2 separate regions of the Homo sapiens genome follow, and region 2 is linked to region 1. Evidence: fine-mapped expression QTL. A gene starts in region 1. The other region holds a variant in brackets. All regions are shown on one strand. Distances are between the middles of the regions.

What was found.
Region 2: its variant is fine-mapped to the expression of MS4A7 in monocytes (CEDAR, PIP 0.95).

What each region holds. Positions count from the first base shown.
Region 1 is chr11:60,376,856-60,379,767 of GRCh38, reverse strand. It overlaps MS4A7 (membrane spanning 4-domains A7), which reads right to left and starts at 1,236. Exons shown (of 7, transcript NM_021201.5): 1 at 1,104-1,236. RefSeq lists enhancers at 1,235-1,284, 1,965-2,204.
Region 2 is chr11:60,434,005-60,436,916 of GRCh38, reverse strand. All of the region lies in intron 4 of MS4A5 (membrane spanning 4-domains A5), which reads right to left. Among named protein-coding and RNA genes, the nearest start is that of MS4A5, 5.9 kb to the right of the region's middle. The variant G/A (reference allele first, on the strand shown) is at 1,181.

The DNA of each region.
Region 1 (2,912 bases):
AGGTCAGGAATTCAAGACCAGCGTGGCCAACATGGTGAAACCCCGTCTCTACTAAAAAAATACAAAAATTAGCCAGGCATGATGGTGAGTGCCTGTAATCCCAGCTACTCAGGAGGCTGAGATGGGAGAATCGCTTGAACCTGGAAGACAGTGGTTGCAGTAAGCCGAGATCACGCACTCTAGCCTGGGTGACTGAGCAAAACTCTTTCTCAATTAAAAAACAAACAAACAAACAAACAAAAAACAACAAAAAAACACATGGTTAAAAGGCTACAATTATTTTAAGCATATTTTACTACAACCAAAAAGCCAAATGGTATATTTAAATAAATGGAGGTCTCTAGATTCATTTAATCAATCACATGTTCATGACTATTTAGGTGGTTTCTATTTTTTCTTTTTGCCACTATGAACAATGCAATAATGAACATCTTTGCACTTTTGTGATACCTCCTGCATTTAATTATCTCACAGTGATGTATGGAAGTGGAATTATTACATTTAAATCTATGACACTTGAATTTAGATACACGTTGCTACTTTTAGAAGGAATCCTATATAACCAAGATTCTTTATGTTTCACAAAAGTCTCCAGACTGATGCTATCATCTCCAAACACCACAGTCTGAGAGGATGCTTTGTCCTTCCACATTCGCCTTGAGGAGATAGACTGGAGGGACCCACAGCTTTCAAGACAGCTCTAAAATCCGTGCTTTGAAGATAAATCATGACATGGAGGTCAACAGCTCTGCCCAGCAATTTTCTGTATTACAGAATTAGAGTAGGACCATGGGGTTCTAATGCAAGATTCAGTCTAATTGCACAGTATTTGTTGAGAGTAGACTCTGTAAGACTGAGTGACACACCAGGAGAATGCAGAACATTGAGGAAAATCACCTCAATGAGGGAAACCTAAGAATGGTTTTACCCAATTTTCTTATTTGACAAGTGAGTAAACTGAGACCCAAAAAGGGGACTGAGCTGACGCTCCAACTCACACAGGTGGTCAGAATCAGAGACAGGATGATAATCCAATTCCCTGGCTGTCTTTTCAAAAGCACACAATCTTCCCCAAAAGTCATGATCTAAACCAAGGTGTCTACCTGTTCTCGCAGCCTGGTCCTGTGTGCTGTGGCTGGGGATCAGCTCACCTCTGGGGAGCGCTCAGCTGGAACCTCCCACTGGCTGTTCCTGCCAGAACGATCTTGGTGCTCTGCTCTCCAGCCTCTGAGACTTCCTGTCCCTTTCTTAGAGCAGTATTTATGATTACACAGGATGTGAATTTTGCTGTAGTTACAGACAGTTGATATATAAAAAGTGCCTCTGCTTCCTCTTTCTAAATTCTGAGGTCTGGCAAAATGACACAAGATAGAAGTGACACATGAGAAAAAGACCTTTGTGCAGACTAGTGATTTGTACGGTCCCAGTTAAAATTCATTTTCCCTACTCCTACATAGAATTATTTAAGTCATCTAGTTTTGCTTAGCCTGAGTTTTCTTGTCTATTAAATAAATGGTGGATGGATAATAATAATTCCACTCTGTGGGTGTTGGGAGAATTAAAGAAAAAAGATGCAAAGAGTTTACAAAAAGTAGACAATAAATATTGATAATAGTAATGTTAGTTTTGAATTTTGGAGAATCTATTCTCTCACTTTCCAGGCTCTTGGTAAGCTGAAAGCAACCTGTGGAAAATTCCGTGTCTCCTTGTTACTTCTTTTGGGTGTTTCCATTCTCCATCTTTGGCCTCATGCTCAGGGAAGTCCAGGCACATCTTGGGAAAGATGCCAGTGGATTGGCCTCAGAGGCAGAGTCATCAGGCTCCACACAAGCTCATATTTGGGGAAGTATTTGTTGTTGAGGGGACACTGTTGCCACTTTCACATCCCTTTTAAGGCTTCTTGTAGACTAGCCATTGTTCAGAAGGGTAGGGTTTAAGATGGCTCTGGGACATGCAGCAGCTGGCGGCACAACATGCTCCATATACAGTCTCCATTTCCTGAAGGGTGGCAAGGCTATCCCCTAAGAGAGGAGCAAACCTAAGCCTGGGAGATTTAAATAACTCATAAACTACTTGGAGGGTATTTTAGTCCAGTTCTTCTCCAAATGAGGTGATATTGCTGAAGGAATCTGCCCCCAGTCACATGTCTAGTCTGTGGAAGAGGCAGGAATCTAATTCACATCTCTTGGCACTGAGGTCTGGGCTTGCTTCATGGCAAGAGTCTGCCATTTGGTCAACATCTTTTTTTTTTTTTGAGATGGAGTTTTTTGCTCTTGTTGCTCAGGCTGGAGTGCAATGGTGCAGTCTCAGCTCACTGTAACCTCCACCTCCCAGGTTCAAGTGATTCTCCTGCCTCAGCCTCCCCAGTAGCTGGGACTATGGGTGCCCACCACCATGCCTGTCTAATTTTTGTATTTTTACTAGAGACAGGATTTCACCATGTTGGTCAGGCTGGTCTCGAACTCCTGATCTCAGGTGATCCACCTGCCTTGGCCTCCCAAAGCTGGGATTACAGGTGTGAGCCACTGTGCCCAGCTTAGTCAACATCTTCATATCCACAACAAGCACTGTCTTTGCTTAAGAAAACTTCCAGGATCCAGACCTTCCTCTGGGTCTATGACCTGTTTTGACCAAATTGTTAAAGAACCTTGGTCATTTGGGCTTCTTTCACACTTCTGAGCCTCAGAAGGAATTCGTGAGAAAATCAGTTAAATATCCAGTTCACTTTCTCATAAAATTTGAAAAAAGATTTTTCAGAATTGTTGTGAGGATTAAGTCAAATAACATAAAAGTCCCCACCATAGAGCCTGACATAAATGAACCATTAAGAAAATCTGGTATTTCTTGTCCAACATCTTCTCCCACCCCCTTTAGAGAAAAGTGTATTTTATCTCTAGATTGATCTCTGATCT
Region 2 (2,912 bases), 57 kb before region 1:
TGTATTTCCTGAATCTGAACGTTGGCCTGCCTTGCTAGATTGGGGAAGTTCTCCTGGATAATATCCTGCAGAGTGTTTTCCAACTTGGTTCCATTCTCCCCATCACTTTTAGGTACACCAATCAGATGTAGAGTTGGTCTTTTCACATAGTCCCATATTTCTTGGAGGCTTTGCTCATTTCTTTTTATTCTTTTTTCTCTAAACTTCCCTTCTCGCTTCATTTCATTCATTTCATCTTCCATCGCTGATACCCTTTCTTCCAGTTGATCGCATCGACTCCTGAGGCTTCTGCGTTCTTCACGTAGTTCTCGAGCCTTGGTTTTCAGCTCCATCAGCTCCTTTAAGCACTTCTCTGTATTGGTTATTCTAGTTATACATTCTTCTAAATTTTTTTCAAAGTTTTCAACCTCTTTGCCTTTGGTTTGAATGTCCTCCCATAGCTCAGAGTAATTTGATCGTCTGAAGCCTCCTCTCAACTCGTCAAAGTCATTCTCCATCCAGCTTTGTTCCGTTGCTGGTGAGGAACTGCATTCCTTTGGAGGAGGAGTGGCACTCTGCTTTTTAGAGTTTCCAGTTTTTCTGTTCTGTTTTTTCCCCATCTTTGTGGTTTTATCTACTTTTGGTCTTTGATGATGGTGATGTACAGATGGGTTTTTGGTGTGGATGTCCTTTCTGTTTGTTAGTTTTCCTTCTAACAGAGAGGACCCTCAGCTGCAGGTCTGTTGGAGTACTCTGCCGTGTGAGGTGTCAGTGTGCCCCTGCTGGGGGGTGCCTCCCAGTTAGGCTGCTCGGGGGTCAGGGGTCAGGGACCCACTTGAGGAGGCAGTCTGCCCGTTCTCAGATCTCCAGCTGGGAGAACCACTGCTCTCTTCAAAGCTGTCAGACAGGGACATTTAAGTCTGCAGAGGTTACTGCTGTCTTTTTGTTTGTCTGTGCCCTGCCCCCAGAGGTGGAGCCTACAGAGGCAGGCAGGCCTCCTTGAGCTGTCGTGGGATCCACCCAGTTGGAGCTTCCCAGCTGCTTTGTATACCTAAGCAAGCCTGGGCAATGGCGGGCGCCCCTCCCCCAGCCTTGCTGCCGCCTTGCAGTTTGATCTCAGACTGCTGTGCTAGCAATCAGCGAGACTCCGTGGGCATAGGACCCTCCGAGCCAGGTGCGGGATATAATCTCGTGGTGCGCC[G/A]TTTTTTAAGCCCGTCGGAAAAGCGCAGTATTCGGGTGGGAGTGACCCGATTTTCTAGGTGCCGTCCGTCACCCCTTTCTTTGACTCAGAAAGGGAACTCCCTGACCCCTTGCGCTTCCCAAGTGAGGCAATGCCTCGCCCTGCTTCGGCTCGCGCAGGGTGCACGCACCCACTGACCTGCGCCCACTGTCTGGCACTCCCTAGTGAGATGAACCGGGTACCTCAGATGGAAATGCAGAAATCACCCGTCTTCTGCGTCTCTCACGCTGGGAGCTGTAGACCGGAGCTGTTCCTATTTGGCCATCTTGGCTCCTCCCCCCTCATTTATTTCTTAAAACATGATAAATATTGTGGTTTTAAAATCTCTTCTAATATACTTAGTATCAGAAATTTACAGGTGATTTTTTTTTTGCTATGTTCTGTTTCTATTAGTTGTTATTCGCATTGTCTTATTTCTTTTTAGGCCTCTTTTGAGTGCTTACTGTTAATTTTCAATGGAAAATTTGATGGGAATTTATTAAGATTAATGAATGTTTTTCTCCTAGATAGACTTCGGTTTTGCTTCTGCCAGGTACCAGGGGCACCACATACCAAGACCAAATTCAGGTAAAACATTCTTGCCTTATCCAGTTTATGCCTAGCAAAGGTCAGTGGGGATTGGGGCGTGCAAGGAGGTTGTCAAGGGGTTTGTTTGGCTTGTGGCCACACTTCTCAAATACTTTTCCTTTTTAAACTTTGTTCAGCGACTTTGCTATTTTGGGGCAGGGTACGTTGTATATCTTTTTGCCCTTACCTGAAGAGCGTAGTAGCCTATCAAAGACCTAGTTTAATACGGAGAAAATCTCTCTTAAGTCTTTATACTTTGAGTGGATGTGAAACCTTGACTTCTTTCTCTTTCAGTCCACATGGGCCAGGGATTGGATTCCAAATAAGCATCACTGGCAAATGGGTCTGAAGGCATAAGTAGCTTTCATGCTCTTCAGAGTTCCACTTGTAAATTTCAGGTTGCAGGCTTTCATCTAAAAATTGATCTAGTAGTTCCAGCTGACCTTTCAGCTTTTTAATGTCTTTAAGGTTGTTTTGTTTTTTAATAAAAAGACTTCTGTTTTCAGAGAAGAGTTAATCCACATAGCCATACTTAACCATTACCAAAATCAGTCTCCCTATTTTCTGCTCTTTAGTCCTGCTTTCTGTGGACCTGGTGCATTCAAATATTAAGTATTTCTTAGGCTCTGCTGTAAGAAATATCTTCTAATATGACTTCCCCCTGCTTTGCCTTAGATGGTGGGTTTTCAATTTCCTCAGCAATTTTTGTGTGTGTTTGGTAACTCTCTTTTTCTCTCCATGTGGATCAAACCTTTTACATTCTTTTACACTAATCTTAGTGGTATTTTGAAGGCAGCTAAAATAAATGCCCCTTTTCAATCTTATCATGCTTTATCGGAAGTTCAGCCTGTTAAAACCAAATCAAGAACTGTAAAAACACACCACTGTGATTCTAATGTACATATAGGGCTATAAACTACAGCCATACTGCTGTACCTTTTTTTTTTAGATTTATATTTGTATCATACTGATTTGTGTATGTTTTATCTCTTGTGCTCCTGTGAATTCCTAAAGGTGGGAGTTATAATGTGTTTATTTTTCTCTTCCACAATGCCTGGTGTAATGTCTATCAAATATTATGGATTTCATAAATGTTTGTCAGTAAAAGAAAATACATGTGTCCACA